Regions from separate parts of the Homo sapiens genome. Here region 2 is linked to region 1. Evidence: fine-mapped expression QTL. A gene starts in region 1. The other region holds a variant in brackets. All regions are shown on one strand. Distances are between the middles of the regions.

Region 1 (11,762 bases):
AAGAGCACTAACTCTAGCAGAAAACACACAAGTGAATATATACACTGATTCTAAATATGCCTGTAACGTTATCCATTCCAATGCCCAAATTTTGAGTGAGCAGGGCTATCTCATAGCTAAGGGAACCCCTATCATTAATGGAAAACTCATCCATCATCTATTAAAGGCAGCTATACTTCCAGAAAAGGTTGTGGTTATCCATTGCAAAGGACATCAATCAGACAAAAGCCACATTCCTTTAGGGAACCATGAGGCTGACTATTGGGCCAAACACGCCTCAGCCAACGACCCAATTCCCCAATACTTATTTCCCCTCACACAACATATGCCCTCCTTTTATCCAGAACACCAAACACAACAACCAATCACAGTAGGGGCAGACAATTTAAACCCCCATACTGGTTCATACAAAACAAATTAGTCCTACTTGACCCTGAAAAAACAATTTCTTCTATGGGACATTCACAACCTCTTCCACACTAGCCATTCCCCTCTACAGCATTTCTTAAGTTCCCATATATACATAACCCCAGACATAAAGGAACAGTTAAAAGCCATTTCCCATCAATGCTCTGTTTGCAAAAAAGCTTCACCCCACTTCAACACTAGACCCTCTTCTTTTCTAACCCATCAATCCAAGGGACACCTTCCAGAACAGGACTGGCAAATTGGTTTTACCCACATGCCCCCAGTAAAAAGGGTTTGATTTCTTTTAGTTCTGGTTGATACCTTTTTGGTACGGGTCGAGGCCTTTCCCACAACCAACAAACGAGCTCCTACTCTCCAAATTAATAACAGAAATCATCCCCAGGTTCGGGGTGCCTCTTTCTTTTCAATCTGATAATGGCCCTGAATTCATTTCTCAAATTATTCAAACACTTGCACAAGCCCTACAAATCACCTGGAAGTTGCACCTCCCCTCTCGACCTCAATCTTCAGGAAAGGTTGAAGAAATGAATGGCATTCTACAAAAACACCCTCACCAGGTACTCACACCAAACACATAAAGACTGGGTTACACTTTTGCCTTTAGCCCTTCTAAAAATTCGGGTGCTCCAATGTAAACTTCTAACGCTCAGCACCTTTGAACTCATGTATGGGAGACCATTTGCCCCTCTGCTCCACCTCAGGGTCAAGCCCCACCTCCACCAATCCCTCTCATTTCCCCTCTTGTACATACCATCTGCCATTTCATTTAGGAATATGCTGACAAATACCTGCCACAACCCATCACCGACTCCTTTAATCCCTCCCTACAGCCAGGAGACTGGGTTCTGGTAAAATACCCCAGTCCTACCCTCAATTCCTGCTTCACACCTAAGTGGAAGGGACCTTACCAGATCATCCTTACCACACCCACAGCACCGAAACTCCAGGGACTCCCCAGCTGGTTTCATTGTACTTCTCTCAAGAAAACAGACTTCCCTTCACCACATACCCAAACAACCAAGTCTGAAACCCCTTCGGCCTTCTCTCGTGTCTCCCAGGACCCACTTCTCTTCGCCTCACCCAAATCCCTGAGGAAAAGGAGGAGAAATCCACATAAGCCGCTTATGTCTCTTTCTCTCCCAAACTTTCATCACTTCCTAACTAACCTTGTTACAGACCTTCAGTGGTGCCCTTAGGAAGCTCCCATTATACATCCTGATCAGCTCGTTACTGCTCTATGGGACCTATGGCTTCAAGGAACTTTCCAGGACTTTACTCCTACCCAAATAACTTTTTTCGCTTTTTGCTTGTTTCTTTCAATATAAATTCCCTAATCACATCAACCTCATCAATACAACCACTCCTCACTGCTCTCAAACTAGAACGCTCTATAAACCTTACACAATCTCTCTTGCGGCAAGCTAACTCTTCCTTTGCTCTGGAATGCTGGGTGTGTTTATCGCTGTCTTCCTTAGCTTACACAGCCCTTCCTACATTCCTTCATGACCTTTTAACAGGAAACACAACCCTAATTTATAAACTCCAAAAAGGAGCTTCCTTTTTTGAAAGAGCTGACACTCTAGTCGGTGATTATCCCACTTCCAGGGCCGATCAGGCCAACAAATTATTTCAAACCTAGGATAACTCCCTACAGCGCCTTAAGCCCCACGGCCCTCCCATTGAAGGGCCCATAACTAAACACACTCCTCCTCTTATAATGAGCCTCACTTTGCTTTTCAGCCTCGGAGGGAAATTTCCCTGTAGGGTCCTTAACATCTAACCTATGCAACCACACTATCATTGTTAAACACCCCTCTGACCATCAAACTAACCAGGCTAACTACCAAGTATCACCTGAAGCGAACGGAGCATTTCTGCAGCTGGCTCGTTTGACAGCCTTTCCCTCAGCCAATGCCTCCAGCCTAACCTGTGCTGCTCCTAGTGCCCACAATTTTCCTTGGCTCAATATCAATAGTGCAGCATCCGACCGCATTAAATCTGTAAAAAATAACTCTTCCTATACCTCTAGTATAGTAGGTGTCTCCCAGGCCTCCTCCTTGTCCACCTGGAGTAATGAACCACAGGAAAGAACAAACACCTCATCTTTAATTCACTTATTTTCTGTCCATATCTCTGCTTGTATTTACAATAAAGGCTTGTTCTTTTTGTGTGGTCTCAACACATATTTCTTTGTCTCCCCATCAACCAGACCAGAACCTGTACCCTAGTTTATCTTTCTCCCTCCATTGGACTAGTTCCTCCTAATCAATCTTTACCCGTTCCATCCATCCAATATGTTAGGAAGAGGAGAGCCATCCACGTCATTCCTTTAATGGCTGCCTTAGGTATAACCTCCGGGCTTGGGTTGGGAGCAGGCTGATTCGCCACCTGCTTAACATACTTGAAATCTCTTTCAACAGAACTGCAGAGTTCATTAGAGCATATGGCCCAAAGCCTTATAAGAGTCCAAGGCCAACTAGACTCCTTGGCTGGAGTAGACTCCTTGGCTGGAGTAGTCCTCCAAAATAGACAGGAATTAGATGTTATAACAACTGAAAGAGGGGACCTCTGCCTCTCATTCGGTAAAAAATGTTGCTTCTATCTCAATCAGTTGGGCCTAGTAAGAGACGCTGCTAAAAAACTTAAAGAAAGGGCTAAAAAGCTAAGAGAATAACAAGACAACCAAATAAATTACTGGTTTAAAAACAAAGTCCTAATATGGGTCATCCCATTCCTGGGCTCTCTCCTAAAAATATGCCTAGGAATAATGTTCTTACCCTGCTTAATTAACCTTTTTCTAAGTTTTTTTTATTTTTTTGAGACGGAGTCTTGCTCAGTCGCCCAGGCTGGAGTGCAGTGGCGAGATCTCGGCTCACTGCAAGCTCCGCCTCCTGGGTTCACACCATTCTCCTGCCTCAGCCTCCCAAGTAGCTGGGACTACAGGCACCCGCCACCATGCCTGGCTATTTTTTTTTTTTTTTTGTATTTTTAGTAGAGACGGGGTTTCACCATGTTAGCCAGGATGGTCTCGATCTCCTGACCTCGTGACCCACCCGCCTTGGCCTCCCAAAGTGCTGGGATTACACGCGTGAGCCACCGCGCCTGGCCACCTTTTTCAAAGATTTTTAACCAGCAGGATCATGGCCATCTCACAGACAATTACCCAAAAACATCTACAGACAGCGTTACTCCTACAATCAATCTGAAACCAAAGAACTCTCTGCTCACTCCCCCAGCAGGAAGTAGCCAGAAAAAATGCGCTGCCCCTTGTCCTTTTCATAACTATAGAGACTGGATTGATAGAGCAGGAGCATTGCCATCTTGGACAAACACCACCTTTCTAAGTTCCCCTTGATTAAAAAACCACCTAAATCCTACCCCAAAACATCAGCCTAACGGCTAATGTCAGCATAACCAGAAATATTCCAACCCTAAGATAAACCTCTCTTCAACCAGAAACATGCTAACCCTGAAATAACCTCTCCTCCAATAGCCTCCCCTCCGACCAGAGACATTCCAACCCTGCAATAAACGTTCCCCCACTTCCAAAACCCTTAAATATCCTTAGTCTGTAAGAGAGAATGCTTAGTCTGTAAGAGAGAGCGCTCCTGATCGAAATTGGCCAGAATCCCCTCTCAGGTTTATTCTCTGAAATAAACCTTTTAATGTTGAGCCGCTTTTTGTATTTATTTCCTCTTTCTTTAACGGTTACAAGCATTGTTACTTGAGTGTTTCTGCTGTAATGGAGGAGGCAGCATGAATATCTCAAACGGTTGCTAGTGAGAAGCCACGCAGATGAGAGGCATGAAGCCTTGTTGGGCTCCCTCCATGTCCTACAGCCAGAGAGCGTCAGAAATACATCTGCCCCAGAATGAACTGGGCTGAAAACTCTTTGCATGGAGGGAGACCACATAACCTGGGGAACTTGGGTAAACGATGTTGGAACGGAGGTGTAAGATTTGGGTTTGTGTTAGTTGATTTGGGGAAACATTTATGGAAACGGGCCTTTGCTCCGGATTGGATGTCAGGAAGAGGAGGATTCCATGATTGGATATCTTGATGAAGCTTATCTAGACGGCAGGAGGACGAGACAAAGGCTAAACATGTAATGGTAAAGAAGCAGCAATCACTCTTATTGGCCAAGACGAGGGGAATGTGGTCACTTTTGTGGCTTGGACAGTGTTCCTGTTTTGTCTGTGTTCACACTTGATTACACAGTGGTCTGTTTTTTTCTCTTGATCTGTATCACGGCCTGATGTTGGTGTTTTATGAAATTGTTCACATTCAAAGAGAACACCCAGGCCTAGCTGTTTGTGCCAGACCAACCCCAAGTCCTGGCTGCAGAACCAGGCCAGCTCCCCGATGTCAGTGGCCGCCTTTCTCTTTACAGGCATGGAGGGGGACACCATTAAGGAGGAGCCCCTCTTCTCCGCTCCCCACAGACACCAGTGGGTGCAGACAAGTCAGGGAATGCCTCCTTTCCCTCCGGCATCTTTTGAGGTTTCCGTCCTGACGCCCAGGGCCGCTCCATCCAAGCCTCGGTTTCTCAGTCTCTAAAACAGGCCAGAAACCAGGCACGCCGTGGTGAAAGGACGAGCCGAAGAGATGGCAAGAGCTCCAGAAAGCCTTCCCAGGCATCAGGGGCTGCCCTTGAGCTCAGACGTTTCTCTCTGGACAGGGCTTCTTGGACAGGAACTCAACGAAACTTGACAGAAATCGGACACCCCCAGCCAAGGAAAAGCAGGAGGGGCCCGGGGTTCGCCAAGGCGGGAAACACCGCGGGGCCCAGACGGCGCCGTCCGCCCGGCTCGCAGTCGGGGCGCGGGAGGGGCCCACGCGCATGCGCACCGCCCCGCCCCCAGCCGCCCCGCCCAGCCCGCGCGCAGCCCTCTGGGGCGGCCGGGCCACGCCGCGCGCCGATTGGTGGCGTCCGGGACTCTCCCTGCAGGTGACTGACGGCGCCGGCCGCCCCTGCCCGTCGCCCGCCCGCTGCTGCCGCCCGCCCGGGGTGTGGAGCCCGGCCGCTGCTCGCGGGCTGAGTGTCTGTCGCTGCTGCCGCCTCCACCCAGCCTCCGCCATGGACCTCTTCGGGGACCTGCCGGAGCCCGAGCGCTCGCCGCGCCCGGCTGCCGGTAAGCGGCGTTGCCGCCGGGCCGGCCAGGGAAGGGAGAGCAGGCGGGATGGGGGCGGCCTGAGGCCCGGGGCGGCTGAGGCGGCGCCCGCGCTGGGAGGCGGCGGGCGGCGCGGGCTGCACGGGGCCTGCTCCTGCCTGGCCAGGCCCCGTCCGGCCCACTGGCGGCCCTGTCGGAGGCCCGGTCGCTCGCGGAGCTCGGAGAGGCCGCTCCGCCATTTTCGCTACGCAGGAAGGAAAGGGCCGAGCCGTCGTGGCCACGGCCCCTCTGCGTGGCGGTGAAAGGCGCCGGCGCGACCGCGTGGGCCGACCCGAGGGACCGGCTCTGAACGCCCGGCGGCACCGCGGGCCCCCGCGCCCCGATTCCACCCGCGGCCTGGGCTGCCTTGCGCGTCGCCCGCCCGCGGCTTCCGGGCCGCACTTCACCCGCGGGCTGTGGAACGGCCGCGTTCCGGGCCGGTGCAAGTTCAGGGGCTTGGCGTTTTTATTTGCACTGGAGATTGAATTAATCACCATCTTAATCCTTCGTGTTTTTGAAGCCTGGAAGACAGGATGCCTCCTCTGTCATCCTGTGATTTTGTGATAATTAACAGTAGTTTTTTTTTTTTTTTTCTGGTCCACGGGAAGTTCCCCCTCTCCTTGAAGTTAAGGGGTCCGCTCATCTCCTAAGCGCTGGCCCCTGCCAGTGGGAGTCCCTGTGGGCTGTGGTTTGAGCTCAGCATCCTAGCAGCTTGAAACAGGGCCTGTGTTAATCCCTGCGTCCTGTGGGTTACAGTCTCCGGGTTTCATCTGTCAAAACGCGTGAATATTTCATATGCAAGACTTCCAGCTTGATGTTGTAGTTTAGGGCCTTATTACAAAATTTAACTTGGGGGCAGAAAACCTGGAAAACTTAAGACGTTCAGATTTCCAGGCCCACCTCAGCCCCAGTAAATCCGAATCCCTGAGAGTGGGGTTTCCGAATCTGTTACTAAATCCCCAGGCCAACCCAGCGGGGGCTGGAGACCAGTGGTTTGGGAGCTGCTGTTGTAGGGTAGACGGAGGTGAGTAAGGCCCAGCCTTCGCTTTCTAAGAGCTGCTTTCTGAAGGGTACTAATTACGGTAATTAAAACTGGCAAAAGTTAATGACTGTGGGAAATGCTGAGGACTCTTGAGGAGGGATTGTCGGGCACCGAGAGACTGGGGAAGGAGGCAGTGTTTGAATTGAGCTTCCAAGGATGTTCAGGCTTGTGATTTGCAGTAATTCTGGGCGAGAAAACATTTTATTTTATTTTACTTTTTGAGACGGAGTCTCACTCTTGTCGCCCAGGCTGGAGTGCAATGGTGAGATCTGAGCTCACTGCAACCTCCGGGTTCAAACAATTCTCCTGCCTAGGCCTCCCTACTAGCTGAGATTACAGGCGCCGACCACCACACCCGGCTAATTTTTATATTTTTAGTAGAGACGGGGTTTCACCATGTTGGGTAGGGTGGTCTTGAACTCCTGACCTCAGGTGATCCGCCCGCCTCGGCCTCCCAAATTGCTGGGATTACAGGTGTGAGCCACCGTGCCCTGCCCCCACTGACCGTTCTGATGGTACAGAGCATCTCAGTAACTGGTCCTGGAGTCTTTGAACTTGACTCAGCCATTCATTTTCAAAATAACCACGGTTTTAGCTGTGGGTAAAAATTGGATTTGTGTAGCAGTCTTTTTTCTCTTGTCAATGGAGTATAATTTCTATCTGAATATATTTGGGACAGCATTTGGATTCACCAGTGTGCGTGTAAACCTATGAGTCTTAAAATCTCCATTGCTTTTTACCTGCAATTAATTAGGTTCTGCTCAGGAGCAGGCTCCCTTGACTGACAAAAAACCTGGCAACTCAGAATCTCATAGGTTGGCACCTTAGCAGCCTTTTGCCAGATACAGTGGGAAAGGTACATCCTGTTGCCGTTTTTTCCAAACTCAGTTTCCAACCTTGACTGAGCTGAAAGGGTGGCAGAGGGGGTGCATGGTGTTTAAACTGCTGACCACCCTGAGATTGGATTGGTCAGCTGCTCCCCATCTGCCAGGAGGGCACTGACATTGTCAACAGGTCCTGCTTGGCTGAGTGTATTTTTAAAAATAGCTTTAAAACGAAGAAGATCTCAGAATTTGTAGATGATTGGAAGCTGAGAGGGATAAGTACTAAAATGAGTGACAATTGGGATCCATAGTTATCATTGCAGGCTGTTAGCTACAACCAACAAGATGAGATTTGACAGGTTAAAATCGTTTGTACAAGAACAGAATCTGGTTTCACATACTTGTGAAAATACTGTGATTTAAAAAAAAAAAACATACTTTGAATAAATCATATTGATTGCTAAAGTGAATGGAATAATGAGTCTAAACTGTGCATCATGACCCTCACACATGATATGTGGGTACCACAAATCTCTAATGCAGTGAACAATAAAAGACCTCGTTATTTTCCCAGAGCGCAAGAAAAGTTGTTCAGAAAGTGTAACCAGACTACTTGGTTTAGAATCCAGCTCTTCGCTTACTAACTGTGCCTTCTGTGGCTATTCCTACATGTGTAAAAAGGGGTGACACTTGCCACTGTTACTGTACAAATTAGTACAGTATGTATGGTGCTGCACATAGTGTGGGGTAGAATGTATAGTGTTTTATAGATGTTAGCCAGGGTTATTATTTTTGAGACAGCCTCATTGTGTCGCCCAGGCTGGAGTGCAGTGACATAAACACAGCTCACTGCAGTCTCGACCTCCGTGGGCACAGGTGATTCTTCCACCTCAGCCTCCTTGGTAGCTGGGACTACAGGTGCGCACCACCACAGCCAGCTAATTTTTGTATGTTTTGTAGAGACAAGGCTTTGCCATGTTGCCCAGGCTGCTCTCGAACTCCTGGGGCTCAAGTGTTCTGCCCACCTTGGCCCTCCCAGAGTGCTGGGATTACAGTGGTAAGCCACTGTGCCTGGCTGAGCCATTAACAGTTGTTTAAAAGTGGAAAAACGCAGTCTTAAATGAATTATGGGAAAGCACTGAGTGTCCAAAGGGAGAATACTACACTGCTTATATCACATCAAATGTATTAATATTTTGTTTAGATCTTTTTATTTTTGTTTTAAACGTTGCATCTAATGTTCCCACCCCTAAACCTCTTAAATGTTTATAATCTAGAAAAATACATAGAATGCACTAAATATTTCAGGTATTTTGCTAAATTAGTAGTTTTCATCCAAGCCCTTAAAAGTTTTAATTGCTGAATGAATCAAGTTTTTTAAAGGAGAGATGTATATATTTTACCTAAAAAAAAGTGTTTGTTCATATCAGGCAGAAATGGAACTTTCCTATGTCATACCCATAAAAGTGCCGACCTGATGTCTTTAAGATTGGCAGCTTATATTGACAATCCATGTATGTCAGTTGAAGGTGTCATGGTTTAAAATTGCTTCGCCAGTAACTTGATTTCACTTTTATAGGGTGGTTCTTTTACTTATTTGGTTGCTACACTAGTACTTTAAAAATTGATGGTCAGTTGTTGAGGAGGAAATAAAATATTTGATGGCCACACCATCTTAAAAATACTTTAAAAAAATTGGAGGCTGGGCTCGATGGCGCATACTTGTAATCCCAGCGCTTTGGGGGAACAAGGCAGGAGGATGGCTTGAGGCCAGGAATTTGAGAAGAGCCTGGCACAACTTCGTGAGACCCCTGTCTCTACGATTAAAAAAAAAAAAGAAGAATATTTGAACATAAAGGTTAAGGTATTAGAGGAAAACAGATTGTAAAACTACAGGGTTGAACAAGAAAAAAGTCATAAAAAAGTGAATTTGACTATGTAAAAATTTAAAATTTCTGCAGGACAAATGATACTATAAAGGCAAAAGACAAACCGAGAAAATAATTGCAATATACATTACTAAGGGTATAAGAAAGGCTCACAGAATTGATGGGAAAAAATAAAACCCACTAGAAAAATGGTCAAAGGATGTATCCTCCCAGTTCAGAGGTAAGGAATACAAATGGCCCATCAACAGAAAGTTGCTGAGGAACTATTTACCTTTTCACCCATCAGATTAGCAACAGTTGGTAACATTGGTGAATGTGTAGCGAAGTAGACTTTCTCATAAAGTGTTTTGGGAGTGAAAATTACAACTTTTTGGGGAACAGATTTTGGCTTCTATCAGATTTAAACTAATATCCTTTGACGAGCAGTCTAGCAGATTAAGCAGGAATACATGTATCAGATTGTTGATTGTGGCGTCACTTATCATATGAAGAACTGGGAAAAGCTTGAACCCATCAGTAAGGATCTGGTCGAATGAGTGGAGATGCTTCCCATGTGTGGCTGTTGGAGAGGATGAATTAGACTTGGGTGTGTTGGCCTGGAGCATGCCTTGATGGGTTATGTGAACACTATATGTGGAGTATTGTGTAGAGTATGACTCTGTCTTCTACAAATTAAAATGCATGAGTCCATGTGCATGAGCATTAAGGAAAGTGGAAAGGATACACTAAACTCATACTGTGGTTGGGGGGTGTGGCGGAACCTGTCCCCCCTTTTTTCTGATAATACCTCTGTGGTGTTTGGAAAACACCTGGATTTATTTTATAGTTGAAAAAATTGAGGTATAAAAAACAATTTAGCCAAAATATTTTAACATCCTTTTTTAACTTTATTGGATACAGCAACCTTTAACCTGAATATGATCAACCCAAGGGTATTTTTCTCAGCATAGTATATAACTTCCAGTAGACTTAGCTCCAGAATGTAGATAACTGAGGAAAAAAAAAAGTTCTAGATGAGATTAACTATGATTAATGGACATTTTTAGTCTTGTATTCTTATTAGGGTTCTAATATTTTTAAGATTAGGGGAGGGGCCTCTTCCAGATTTTTAGGTCAGGGTCACACTTTGTCCAATGATTGCAGCCCCCAATGCTTTGAATTTCAGTTTATTCAAAATAGAATGTAAGGGCCTGGAGCAGTGGGTCACATCTGTAATCCCAGCACTTTGGGATGCTGAGGCAGGAAGATTGCTTGAGTACAGTAGTTCGTGACCAACCTGGGCAACATAGTGAGACCCCGTCTCTACAAAAAGTTAAAAAATTAGCTGGGCATGGTGGTGTATGCCTGTAGTTTCAGCTACTCGGGAATCTGACGAGGGAGGATTGCTTGAGCCCAGAAGGTTGGGGCTGCAGTGAGCTGTGATCACACCACTGCACTCCAACCTGGCTCACAGAGCGAGACTCTTGTCTCAATTTAAAAAAAAAAAAATCTAAGGTTTTGACTAATCAGTAGTTTCCTTATGTATCTATGACCTATAGATTTTTTTTTAAAGAATCCACATACAGACTTCTAAGTTAGATTCTTTTGATGATGCAAAAATTATTTCCAGAGATTTTATAAAATCTCAGGATTATCATCATAGGATTGTTGTAAGGGTAAAATGAGTTGATGTTTATGAAGTTTCTGGAAGGGTGCCCATGTATGGAGGCAGCATAGTACCTCACTAAAAGCACGGACTGCATGGCTTTGAATCCCCACTCCACTCCTTACTGGCTCTGTGATCTTGAACAGGTAATTGACCTCAGTGCCTCAGTTTTTTCATCGGTAAATAATAATAGTACCTATCTCATAAGAATTAAATGAGAAGATGTGTGGAGCTCTTAGAATAGTGCCTGACAGGCAGGCAGTATTATCATTTTTAGAAGCCATTCCCAGTTGTGGCCAGCAAAATGTAGGATGGTCTCATTGTGTTTAATTGAAATACCTCTCATAGTATTCCAGAGTGAGAAAGAAGGTGATAGGCAGTTCTCTGGGGATGGGGCTCAGTTTGGGGCACCATCTGACTGAATTGTAGCCAGAGGAGAGGCGGCCAGGCTAGTATTAATACTAAGCTGTAAGTTGCATTGTGAGGAATGCTTACAAGAACTGAAAATATATTTATTACCTGGGTAAAAGAAGACTTCCTCCCTTGTACAGTGGCAGTGGAAAGACCTGATTTAGATGGGCAAGTTAATTCAAAAGTTAAAATATGACCTGGTACAAGCGGAAGGGTTGTTTGCTCTTCATGTTGGGCTGTTACCTGTAAATGTCCCCTCCCTTGTCCTAAGACATCTGGCTCTGTGACACCACTGAATGCAGCGTGATTGTCTGGAACATCTCATGTGGTTTTTGAGTCTGTCCGGAGAACGGGCGTTGTGATTGTTAGACC
Region 2 (11,762 bases), 46 kb after region 1:
CTGGTCCCTGAGCACCCGCCATACTGAGTGGCCAGGTCCACCTTCCTCTGTGAAGCCTTCTCCTGGCCATGGTTCCCAACCCCCAGCCATCCCCAGCCCTGACCCTTGGCAGACATGGGCCAAGATGGGGCAGAGACTGGACCTGGCCAGCTCTACTGTCCTTGAGTCCAGCCCAGAGCAGGTGCCTCCTTGGGTGCCCGCCGAAGTGTTGAGGTTGGCCCTGTCAGCTCCTCGGGACACCCTCCCAGGCCCTGCTCACAGCGGGGTGTGTGTGTCCCAGCCGGTGCACACCCCTACCTTTCAGCAGCAGCTGGAACTCCTTCAGCAGCGCCTCGGGTGGGATGATGGGGCCTGGGGGGCCCTGGGGACCGGGAGGCCCAGGGGGCCCTGGCAAGCCGAACTGAAAGGGAACCTTGGCAGTGAGGACATGTGAGGAGCAGGCTGGGAGCCACAGCATCCCCTGTGCAAGCTCTTGCCACTAAGAGGCAGGCAACAGAGCTCCCCAGTGGGCTCCAACCTCCAGCCAAGGATCTACCTCAGTGAAAGCTTCTCCTGGAGTGAGTACAAGGACTGTGCTGGAGGTGGGGGCCCTCGGGGCGGGGCTTTGGCAGGGAAGGACTCTGCTCTGAGTGGGGAGGCAGAGGGCTGAAGCCCGCTCCTGCGGCCAGGCCTCGTGGAGGGAAGAAGACTCTAGGCTGCTTTTGGGGACTTGCATCTCAGGGTCTGCACTGGGCCCGAGTCCACCATCAGCAGGTCCCCACTAGGCTGGGTTGGGACCCGAACCAGAAGCCAGTGAGCCCCCTGTGGGGAGAAGCTTAGGGCAGGGCCAGGAGGCTGGGCAGAGGTAGAAGGCCAGGCCACGAGGACAGCGCGGCCTGTGCACCTGCCTCATGCACTCCGAGCTGGCCTTCCATCGTGTGTTCAGATCCCAGGCAGGTGATACTGGCCCCCAGGGGACAGAGAAGCCCACACCCCGTATTTTCCATTTTGGGGGCTCCAAGCAGGAGGCAGCACCAGGACCAAGCACCAAGTTTCTGCCCAGGCCAAGACCTAAGGCTGAGTGAGGGTGAGAGGGACCCTGTGCCCCTAGTCCCTGGGAGCCAGGCACTCCTGCAGGCCCCTCCAGTGTGGACAAGGTTCTCACCACAGCCTGGGCTAGCCCAGCCTCCCTGGCCTGGATGCAGAGGGAGGAGAAAAGAGGGAGAGCCTGGCATTTTAGGGGTGTGGGGAAATGGTTGGGACCAGGCCCCTAACTCGGGGCTCCCCCTGGGGCTGCCTGGGTTCTCTCTGTTCTCTGTCCCCAGGCCGAGGCGTGAGGGGTGTGCTATTGGAAATGTTCAGGATGTAGGAGTGGGAGTGGATGAGGAGCGAGGAGGCGGAACCCCCCACGGCCTGGCACTGACGGGATGCCGGCCTCACCTTCAGCTTCTTGGCCTTGCCCCTGCTCCTCTTCTTGCCATTGACACCCTTGTCACTCTGCCTGACGAAGAGCATCCAGGCGTCCCGGGGGTCGACGCTGTGTGCACGCTCAGCGGTGGGCTCCTGGAACACAGCCAGCCCAGCAGGGCGGTTGGCCTCACTGGGCTCCTACCAAGCAGGTGGGACACTTTGCAGGAGGTGACTGTGTGGCCTTCTGTACTCTGGGACCCTGGTCCTTGTCACCTGTGGTGCCCTCAAAGGCAGCTCCCAAAGGGGCCCCAACCCCTCACAGCTTCTCCCCCGGCCCGTGGAGGATGACTCCTAGGGAACGGGCCACACCTCGGCCTGGACTTGGCACTCATGGGAGAGGCAGACCCAAGATGCCTGGAGGGAAAATGGGGTGCAGGGCTTGGATATCGGGGTGAATCCCCGTACTGCTGGGCCTCCTTCCTCCAGAGGAGCTGCAGTGATCACACCGTCCTCCAGTCACCAGGAGGATCCGACCACTGGAGCACCCATAGGTGCTCAGGAAGAAGCAACTGTGATTATCAGGGAGCCCAACTACTAGCCAACCCTCCTCTGTCCATCCTCCCCCAGTGTCAGAAGTTCTAAGGAGGCAAATTCAGCTCTCACAGCTGCCTCGGGTTACAGTCCAGTGGGGGAGAGGACCAGGCGAGCTGTCATGACGCGAGGCCTCTGTGTGAGACTTTCATTTCCTCAGCACTTCTGAGACACTGACACATGGACAGTGATGCTTCCGGAAGTTCCCATTCCTGTCCGCGCTGCATCCTGACTGATGCTGACACTGAGCACAGTTTTGGGAGGGACCTTCCTGGGAGAGGCCTTGGGCTATCTGGGCTCCAGGCAAGGCTGCCAGCTGGGAAGGAAACCGGCCCAAGAGGGCTTAGATGAGGTCATGGGTGCTGACGCTGGGGGCTGACGGAAGGACCCTGGGATTTTAGAGCTGACTGGGCCCTTTTATCAGAGACAAAGCCGGCTGCCAAGTCACTGCCTTTGGTTCCTGGCTGATCTGGGGGGATGCAGGGCCTTCTTTTGGGAGCTGGCTGACCAATGCGCAGGCCAGGGTGTTGTGGTGGGAAGATGGGGGCTGCGGTGCCGAGGAGCCTGTGGTTGGGCGGAGAAAGGGTTCAGGGGCCCAGGGCCCTCAGCGCTGCTCAGTGCTTCCTTGTGCCTTAGAGGGTCAACTGCACCACCTGCTGGCTGATCTCCCCTCTACCCCCTCCCAGGACCCTCTTCCACTTCCTGTGTGCCCTCCGTGGAAACATGGGGCGAGGATGCCGCACACCGGCCAGGAGGGGTGTGCCCAGCTGACCCTCCCAGCTGCACCTGTGGCCTGTGGCCGGACCCTGACCCCAGTGTGGTTTGCAGGTAGAGCTGTAACAGGCAGAAGGTGGCGTCCCAGGAGACGGCCCCAGCAATGGGGGTGGGTATTGGGCAGCTGCCCTGGTTCCAGCCACAAGGGGTCTCTCAGAAACAAGCCTTGGAGCCTGGGAGGACCTCTGGTGTCACTGTGTCCCCCACAAACAGGGTCCAAGGCCAAAACTCCACCTGGAAGCCCCTGAGCCCCGTCTGCCTCCTGCTGACAGTGCCCTGACATTTGGCTGCTGTGCCCACCTGGGTGGTTTGGCCAACTGCACGGGGAGGGGGTGCCTTCAGTCCCTGGGAAGTGGCTGGGTGTGATGGGGCCGGGATAGAGAACTCTGGGGGACCCCAGGCCTGGCTGCACCCCTGTCCTCTCTAGTAGATGCGTTCCTGGCTCTCCCCTCTACTGCCCCTGAGCATCTTCAGAATAAACAGCACCGGCCGCCCACCCCGGCTTCCCTGGGGCAGCCCTGTCTCCCTGACCCAAGGCCCGGCCACACTGAGGGCTCCTCTGAAGTTCTCCCCTCCTCAGGCCTGGGCCACACCTCCCCAACCGGACCACCCTCTGCTCAGCAGTCCAGGCTCCAAAACCCTGGAGAGGAGGGGGCAGGGCAGAGCTCAAGATCACCCACTCACGGCCAAAAGCCACCTGATCACTTGACTCAAAGCCACATGTCATTCCCCACCCTGCACAGCCCCCCGACCCCAGATCCGCAGGAAAACACTTTTTGTTTTCCAGATAATTGCACCAAATAGATTGGGGGCGGTGGCAGTAATTCGCTTACACTTTTTACAAATGCGTTCTTCCCAATTTCCTCAAATCAAGTTATTTACACTTTATCTATTTCCCAACTTCCTTCTGTCCCAAAAGAAAAGGGGGGTTTCGCCGACCTAGTAGAACCTTGCTTTAAGTCAAACTACCCCAAAGCCAAAGTCAAGGCTGCCCCGCCGGGCTGAGGGCGGCGTCTACACGGCCCTGAGTCTCTGCGGAGCCCCGGAGCCCCGGTGCCAGGCGATGCAGCAGCCCTCGGGGGTGAGGGCGGGCTCGGCCTCCACGTCCGCCTCCCGCCGCCCCGAGCCGGGGCGTGCGGGCGCGGGCTGGGTCTGGAGCGGGCCCGGGCGTCTTACCGGCGGACGAGCGGCCGGCCCCGCGCGGCTCTCCCCGGGGCCCCGGGGCAGCTCGTTCCCGGGCGGCGGCTCCCTGCGGGCGCGGCTCCTCGAGGGCGCCCCAGGCTCCGGGGACCCCAGGCCCGCGGCGGCGGCGGCCAGCAGGCCCGCGTAGACGAGCAGCAGGCGGGCTCCGGCGGGGCGGCGGGCCGGGGCCATGCGGGCGGCGGTTCCCTCGCGGCTCCGAGCGCGGCGTCTCGGACGCCCCGGGCTCCTCGCCTTATAACGCGCTTGAATCCCCCGCCTCGCCCGAGACCGCGCGCCCGCCCGCGCCCCCTCCCGGCTCCCGTGCGCGCTGCATGGGGATGGGGGGAGTGTCCGGGCGGGGGAGGGGGAGTGGGGGAGGGGGCACGGGGAGCGGGGCAGGGCAGGGAGAGCGAGGGGTGTTCCCCTGCTGGGCGCGTCCCCCCTGCAACTCCTGGTTCTGGGATCCCTCCTTCGCGCTGTCCAGCGCTTCTGCTTCCTGGGGAGCGAGGCGCCCCTTCTCCCAGCCCTGGACCCTCGGCCCTCGCGACCCCATTTTCTTTGCGGGGAGCCAGGCGCTGCCTCCTCCCAGACGGCTCGAGGCATCCTTTCTCCCCGCTCTGTCCCCCACGTCCTCTGCAGGGACCCCCGAGGTACCCCCTCCCCATTCTCCTGGCTGCGCCCCGCAAGGCCCAGGCCTCTATGACACAGGTGGAGCAAATCTGAGCCGGGAGACCCTCAGGGCCCCTTCTCAGCGCCCCTTTCCCAGGCGGGAACTCCCCTTTCCAGGCCGCCCTCCGTCCATGGCTGGCGTGCTCTGAGCGCAGGGATTCACTGTTCTTCCCCACCTGTCGCACCTGCCGGGACCCAGAAGACGCAGGGAGCCAAGAAACAACTCAGGACAGCCGCCCTGCCCTGGTGGGGCTGAGCGGGGCCTGGGCTGGGAGAACTGACCCCTATCGTGCCCTAGCGGGGGTGTGGGGGCAGACCAGACCGGAAGCCAGGCTGCCCACCGCCCACCGGAATCAGTGCCCCCAGAGGTGGACCAGACCCTGCAGGCCTCGGAGAAGGTGGCAGAGAGGCCTCTGGGCGGCCCTACCAGGAAAGAGCCAGCCCCAGCCCCACCCTACCCCTGGCTTTGTTATATCGCATGCCCTTTTGACTATCTGCCCCACCACTGGACGCTAAGCCGAGGAGGGTCGCACACTTGGCTCGCTTGCCCCACCCCCGAGGCACCTGCCCCTGGTGGGTACACAGTGCTTTTTGTTAAAGAACGGGAGAAGGCTCCGCTGGAAAAGTACCTTACACTCACACCGAGGGCTGCTGTTCCCGGGGAACTCTTTTGAGAAGAGCCCGCTGGGGAAAGGAGGCCTTACCCTGTCCTGGTTCACAGGATGTGGCAGCAGGGACTGAAAGGGGCACCAGCAGCCGCAGGTGGTGCCCCCCAGGCTTGGGGATGGGCCA[A/G]GTTCCGTCCTCAGATGCAAGCTGGCCTTTGTCGCCTGCCTTTTCTGGCCACTCATGCGATGTTCCACCTGGCTGGCCTCATGCCTGGCAGGTGGGGAAACCAGGAAATACTTCATACTTTAGGAAAAGCATGGGATCAGAAGGTAATTATTCCCTGTGATTCCACCCCTTTTCCCATAGGATATGGGAATGGTGTAGAGTTGGGTGGGGAGGACGTTTAAAGAAAAACATACCCTGCCCAGCATGAGAATCTGCCCGGCAGGGGTAAGTCCCATGGACTTACTCTGTGAAGATGTCTTTCAATGGCAGGTGAGGACACAAGAGGGAAGTCCTGCCTTTAAAAGCCACAAATGGGCCAGACACGGTGGCTCACGCCTGTAATCCCAGCACTTTGGGAGGCCGAGGCAGGTGGATCACCTGAGGTCAGGAGTTCGAGACCAGCCTGACCAACATGGTGAAATCCCGTCTCTACTAAAACTACAAAAATTAGCCGGGTGTGGTGGCGAGCGCCTGTCATCCCAGCTACTCAGGAGGCTGAGGCAGGAGAATTGCTTGAACCTGGGAGATGCAGGTTGCAGTGAGCCGAGATCACACCACTGCACTCCAGCCTGGGTGACAGAGCGAGACTCCGTCTCAACAAAAAGCCACAAATGATTTTTTTTTTTAAAAAGACCAATACAATGAAAACATTTGAATTCCTATAAAACATGCAAGTCTTTAAGACACATTTGAGAAATATGAGAAACACTGGCTTAGGTCATATGTGCCCAGCAAGATATCTGAACTTATTTCACCTGCAAACATTCTGCAGGTTTGTCACAATTAAGGACATTTGCTCCCAAAATCACGCATATGAGGGAGATGTCTTAAGGCCCTCAGAGAGTGAAGGGTTTCTCTGGTGGGTTTTCATGTCTGGTTCTATTGGAATGTCTGTTAAGAAGCCTGATGTGTGGAACTTTGTCATGACATGTCTGAATGTGACATGCACATTCGGTGTAATGTGTTAACATTTCATTCGGTTTCACTTATTCAGAGGGACTGTATCTGTGGACCACAGGACCCTGGCGTGCCATGTTCTCCTGTACTCTGCTGGTAGAGAGGGGCTCCTGTCCCCAGGAGTTGCAGCTGTGTGAATGGCACCTTCTTGCTTCTGGAGAAGCTCATCCACACCAGCACCTCATTTGATTCCCCACCAATTAGCCCAGAGAGGTGGGCGGCTTGCCCAGGACGCAGCCCATGGGCAGAGCCGGCGTGGGGCTGCAGAGGCCCTCCTGCCCACTGGACAGGTTACATCTTCACGGCCTTATGTTTGGCTTGTTAGGGTTCCTCCTATTCTAGTTGGTGTGAAATAAGAGGTGCGTGATGAGTTGGAGCATTACTGCAGAAAACATAGCCCCATCTTTTCCCTGTGAGGAATGGGCATCCCACAGGTCTGAATTCCCTCTGGGGCCCTGGCTGCAGCTATGGCTCAAGGTGGATGCTGTTTGGCCCCACCCGAGCCCTGGGAAGGTGATGCTCAGGCTCTGCCACCGTCGGCAACACTGAGGATACGCAGGGATGAGGTGCCCTGATTTGGGGAACATTACCCTTAAGATACTAGTGTGATGTCATTCCACTTCGCAGTGGGGGGCCCCAGCTTTCAGGCCAGCATTGAGGACAGGAGCCGTTGCCATGTGAAAAAGTTATTTTCCCAAACAATGAACAATCCTCATGATGTCATGGGCCCTGCCAGAGGCCCAAATCCAATCGGTTCTGGTGCTGGGGCAGCCTCCTGTAACACTATCCTGAGAGGATGACTCCGCCTGGGTTGGGGACAGAGAGCAGAGAGGCCGGGGGTCTTCAGGTGGGGCCCCTGCATGTGTCTGCGTTCACATTTCAAAGTGGCTTTCACTCAGAGGAAGGTGGAGCTTAGCAAAGAATTGCGCAGATCAAGGAGCAGCAGAAATGGGGGCCTCCCCCTGCAGGAGCAGCCCATGGGTCAGAAGTGGGGCTGGCATCGGGGTGAGCCAGGACATCCCAGGATGGAAGAACTAAATGAATGGCCACAGAACGGGGATCACTGGAGCAGGAAGTGGCCTCCCCCATGCGCCTTCACGCCTGGCTGAAATCTAATCCTCATTCTTGGGCCCTCATGTCACGGCCCGGGCCTGGCTTCCCAGCAGCCTGATGCAGCCAAGCTGTTCCCACTCTTCTCTCTTCCTCCAGAGGAAGGACCTTTGCCGATGAAGTCATGGGAATAAAACCTCCCTCTGCCCTGAAAACAGTGGGACCGTGAAGTCAGCTTGTTGTGTGGCCTCCAGAGGCCCAGGCGGGTAGCCTTCGCTGTTTACTGGGCCTTGCAAGCCCACGACGTCATCTAATTTGCAAATCGTGTGATTATCCCCATTGCACAGATGAGGAAACTGAGGCTCAGATCTTGGGATTGGCCCAAGGTCACAGAGCCAATAAATGAAACCACATCCAGGTCTGGCCCCTACAACTTGAGGTCAGTTGCTCTGGAGAACCTACAGATTTAGTTCAGTTCAGTGAGCATTTGTGCAGTTGTGCAGTTCCCATGACGTGCCGGCACCAGGCCGAGCACTCGGAATACATTGTGGCCTCCTGCATGGGTGTGTGGGCAGTCTCGGGTCTCTCGGGAGACAATTCTTTCTCACTCCTGCCCAGAGGGTCTCTTGAGTTTTCTGCTAATTGTCTACATGTTTTTAATAGATTAATTAAAATAATCATCTTTAGCTCTCCTCTCAGTTGAATGCAATGCCATTTTGGAAAGAATCACATTCTTAAATGTGACTGTGATCAAAATCGTCTTGGCTTCTGAGGGAGTCATGATGTCTCCTGGGGTTTGTTCCAAACAGGATACTTCCCCCATGGAGATTCCTGTCCTAGTCTACCTCAGTCTCAGTGACAGCCACACACCTGGCTGCCCTGCCACGTACCTGGTGCTGCAGAGTCCGGGAGAAGCAGCCACACTTCAGACCGATCAGCTGATACCACGCCGGGCACTGGGGAGGGACGGTGAATGACACGGCCCCGGAGGTGCAGCATCTTTCCTGTGTACGTGGCTGTGCCCTCTCTCCTTAAGCCATTGGCACATTCTCCATCCATACACATGCTTTCAGCTGGATCAACTGATGGCCCAACCAACTGGAGTAGTGGCCTGTATCCTTCTGTTTTCTTGCTATAAAGGAAAATGTGAGGCTGGGTAATTTACAAAGAAAAGAGGTTTATTTGGCTCACAGTTCTGCAGGATGTACAGGAAGCATAGTGCCAGCATCTGCTTCTGGTGAGGCCTCAGGAAGCTTCCACTCACGGTGGCAGGGGAAGGGGAGCAGGTGTGTCACACAGTGAGGGAGCAAGGGAGAGCAGGGGAGGTGTCAGGCTCTTTAACGATCAGCTCTCCGTGAACGCACCAGCGTTACTGCACCATGCCATGCCTGAGGGATCCGCCCCCATGATCTAAACGCCTCCCACCAGGCCCAACTCCAACACCAGCGATCAGACTCAACAGACTCAACATGAGATTCGGAGGGGACAGATCTCCAAGCTATGTCATGGTCTATACTGACTATGGAAAACTGTCAGGTGACCAGTCCATTTAATTACAGTCACATGAGGGTGTCAATGGCCTGATCCCAGCAACCACTGTCCCTGCCTGAATAGAGAAGATGCCAGATAATAAAAGGGGCCTGTCTGTGAGGTGTTGGAAAACTCAAGTCCGGTGGAAGTGGCTGGAAGCATGCCTAGGCCCCAGCTTACTTGGGGACCCGGGGGAGCTGAGATACAGTTGGCAGTGCTGGGCCTGGCTGAGGGCCCTGTGTGCTCACTGAAGGCTGAGGGGCCTCAGTTTACCCAGCATCCTCTATGGGAAAGACAACACGCACCTACCTGGAGGACATGAGCACATGGGGCCTGGAGGTGGGTTTCGCCCGCACACCCCTGTGGGCATTTGCACATGTTCCAAGGCTACGCGCTCCCCTTTCTAGAAGCCCATATTAGCCTCAAGCCTTCTAATGAGTCCTTGCTGTCCTGGATTTTGATGATGGAAGGGGATACCTTGGCTGCCCTATGGCTGTCGCTTGGTGAGTGAGTGCATTAATGTCCCTTCGTGCAAAGCTCTCAAGTGGGTGACGTGTGCCGGACCTTCTGGCCGCCGTCCTGGTGCCCTGGCCACCTTCTCCACCTGTTCTGTGTCCCCAGGTGGCCACTACAGCCTGTCAATGGCCTCTCTTCCCTCTGGGTTCTGGTTGGGCTTGGCCTGTAGGAGGCGCTAGTGGGAGACAGGGGGCAGGCCAGAGAGAGAGGGCAGATGGACTCTGCCACCTCCTCCCAGCTGGACAACAGGGGTGGTGGCTGCGTTCCCCCGCCAAGGCCCTCTCTCAGCAGCTCCCTGGAGTCTGCGTCTGCCCTTTCCCTTCTCCCAAGACGGGGTGGGGGGGGTGGCACTCCCACTGCTGCTGTCCTGGGATGCCTCTCCAGCCACTGGGCTCCCTTCACCCTGCCCACAGCATGGGGAGAGGCCGTCGTGAAACTCTCCTTAGCCACTCACCTCAATACCCAGCAGACGCCCCTTTCCTCCTGGTGCCCTGAAGGCTGCGATGGCCCCCTGAATCAGGAGCCCAGCTGATCGGACGAGGTGCACTTTGGCACCTCAAAGCTGGGAGCCAGGCCCTGGAGAGGCCCACTCCTTCCACCCGAGGACCGCCCATATTCCCATAGGGTGTGCAAGGGTGGACAGCAGGCGTTGCTCTGGCACGCCGCCCTTTTGGCTACTTTGTGATCAAAGCCAGCCTATTTTGACATTTCATGTCTTCAGTTTTATTTTTATTTATTTTAAAATATTCTTGCAGAAATGGTTTACATGGAGGCTTTGTTTTTAAACAGCCCTTTGGCTGACCTCCTTCCATCACTGTCTAGAAAACATTTCAGATTTCCACATGGAAACAGAGCCCAGGGCCCCAGAAACCCTCACCCTTGCTTCATCCAATCCATCTGCCACCGAAGGTCTCCTCAGCTCTGGGCTCTTGTTCCTTTGGTAGCACCCAGAGGCCCCACTCTGTCTGGCCCTCCAGGGTCAACTCACTTCTCCCACACCTTGTAATCCCAGCACTTTGGGAGGCTGAGGCGGGCGGATCACCTGAGGTCAGGAGTTCAAGACCAGCCTGGTCAACATGGTGAAACCCTGTTTCTACTAAAAATACAAAAATTAGTCAGGCGTGGTGGCGAGTGCCTGTAATCCCAGCTACTTGAGAGGCTAAGGCAGGAGAATCTCTTGAACCCGGGAGGTGGAGGTTGCAGTGAGCCAAGATCTCAGCATTGCACTCCAGCCTGGACGACAAGAGCGAGACTCCGTCTCAAAAAAAAAAAAAAAAAAAAAAAAAAGCTATGAGAGGCAGGTCTGGGAGCAAAGCAGATCCCTACCTACAGAAGCTCAAGAGGCTCAGGGGTTTCCGTCCTCAGAACCCAAGGATGTCAGAGGCCCCTCTGGTCCCCAGGGGCGGGGGGTGTTAAGGAGGAACCCAGGGGCTGGTCCTGGAGAGGAAGCCTGGATCCGGCGGGAGACCGGAGCTGCCCAGGGCCTCTGGGGCAACACCAGGGCCTGTGCCTGGCCGGGCCCGACTCCTGACTTCTAGCCCCATGTCCCAGGGCGGAGCCTGTGACAGGAGGGACACGCCATTGGGCACCCAGGGAGAGTCCTTCATTGTCTCCTTAGCTGCAAAGGTGGGTGCCTCATTCAGGATGAGGGAGAAGCCACTCGGAGCCTGAGCCAGCCGGAGTCGGGCTGCATGCTGGCAGGGGCCCATCGGATGCTACCCCTCACCCTCAGGAGGCTGCCACCAATGCACCCAAGAGTCGTCCCCTGGTGGGAAATTCCATTCTAATGAAGAGCCTTTGTTCTGACACACAGAGACGGAGGCAATCCCTTCTGAGAGCAAAACTGCTCACCTCCCTGGGACCCTCCAGCCCCGCCCCACGCCCTGCCTCCCTCCTTCCTGGTGCCTCTGTGGGCACCGCCCTCTGGGTGCAAGAGATGGGTGGGGGCCTCCTTTGTCCACAGAAGCAGAAACACAGCACCAACATGCAAAGCCTGAGTGGGGACCCAAAGCCCACACAGCCAGCCCCGTGTGTGGTGGACGCGGAGCTTGAAGCCCAGAGAGGGGAGGTGGCTGGCCACAGTTACGCTGCCGTGAGCTGGGCAGAAGCAGGCCCACGAGGACCTGGTGCTGATCCCATCTCCGGGGCCTGCCTTCCCCAGCAGCCTCAGCTTTCTGGGACGCTCCGTGTTCACCCCACATTCATGCAACTGCTCCAAAAGCCCCTGCTGGGGTCCAGGGGCAGGAGTGGGGCTCGCAAGCTCTGGGAATGCT

Evidence for each region. PIP is the estimated chance that this variant, and not a neighbour inherited with it, causes the effect.
Region 2: its variant is fine-mapped to the expression of ILKAP in whole blood (TOPMed, PIP above 0.99).

Annotation. Positions count from the first base shown.
Region 1 is chr2:238,197,298-238,209,059 of GRCh38, reverse strand. ILKAP (ILK associated serine/threonine phosphatase) reads left to right here and starts at 5,365. Exons shown (of 12, transcript NM_030768.3): 1 at 5,365-5,561. The coding sequence starts at 5,507. RefSeq lists enhancers at 4,484-5,356, 6,319-6,378 and silencers at 5,169-5,738, 5,859-5,948.
Region 2 is chr2:238,151,374-238,163,135 of GRCh38, reverse strand. ERFE (erythroferrone) reads right to left here and starts at 4,166. Exons shown (of 8, transcript NM_001291832.2): 1 at 3,931-4,166; 2 at 1,420-1,542; 3 at 298-400. The coding sequence starts at 4,128. KLHL30 (kelch like family member 30) reads right to left here. Exons shown (of 8, transcript NM_198582.4): 8 at 10,189-11,762. RefSeq lists a silencer at 4,119-4,188 and an enhancer at 9,355-9,854. The variant A/G (reference allele first, on the strand shown) is at 5,398.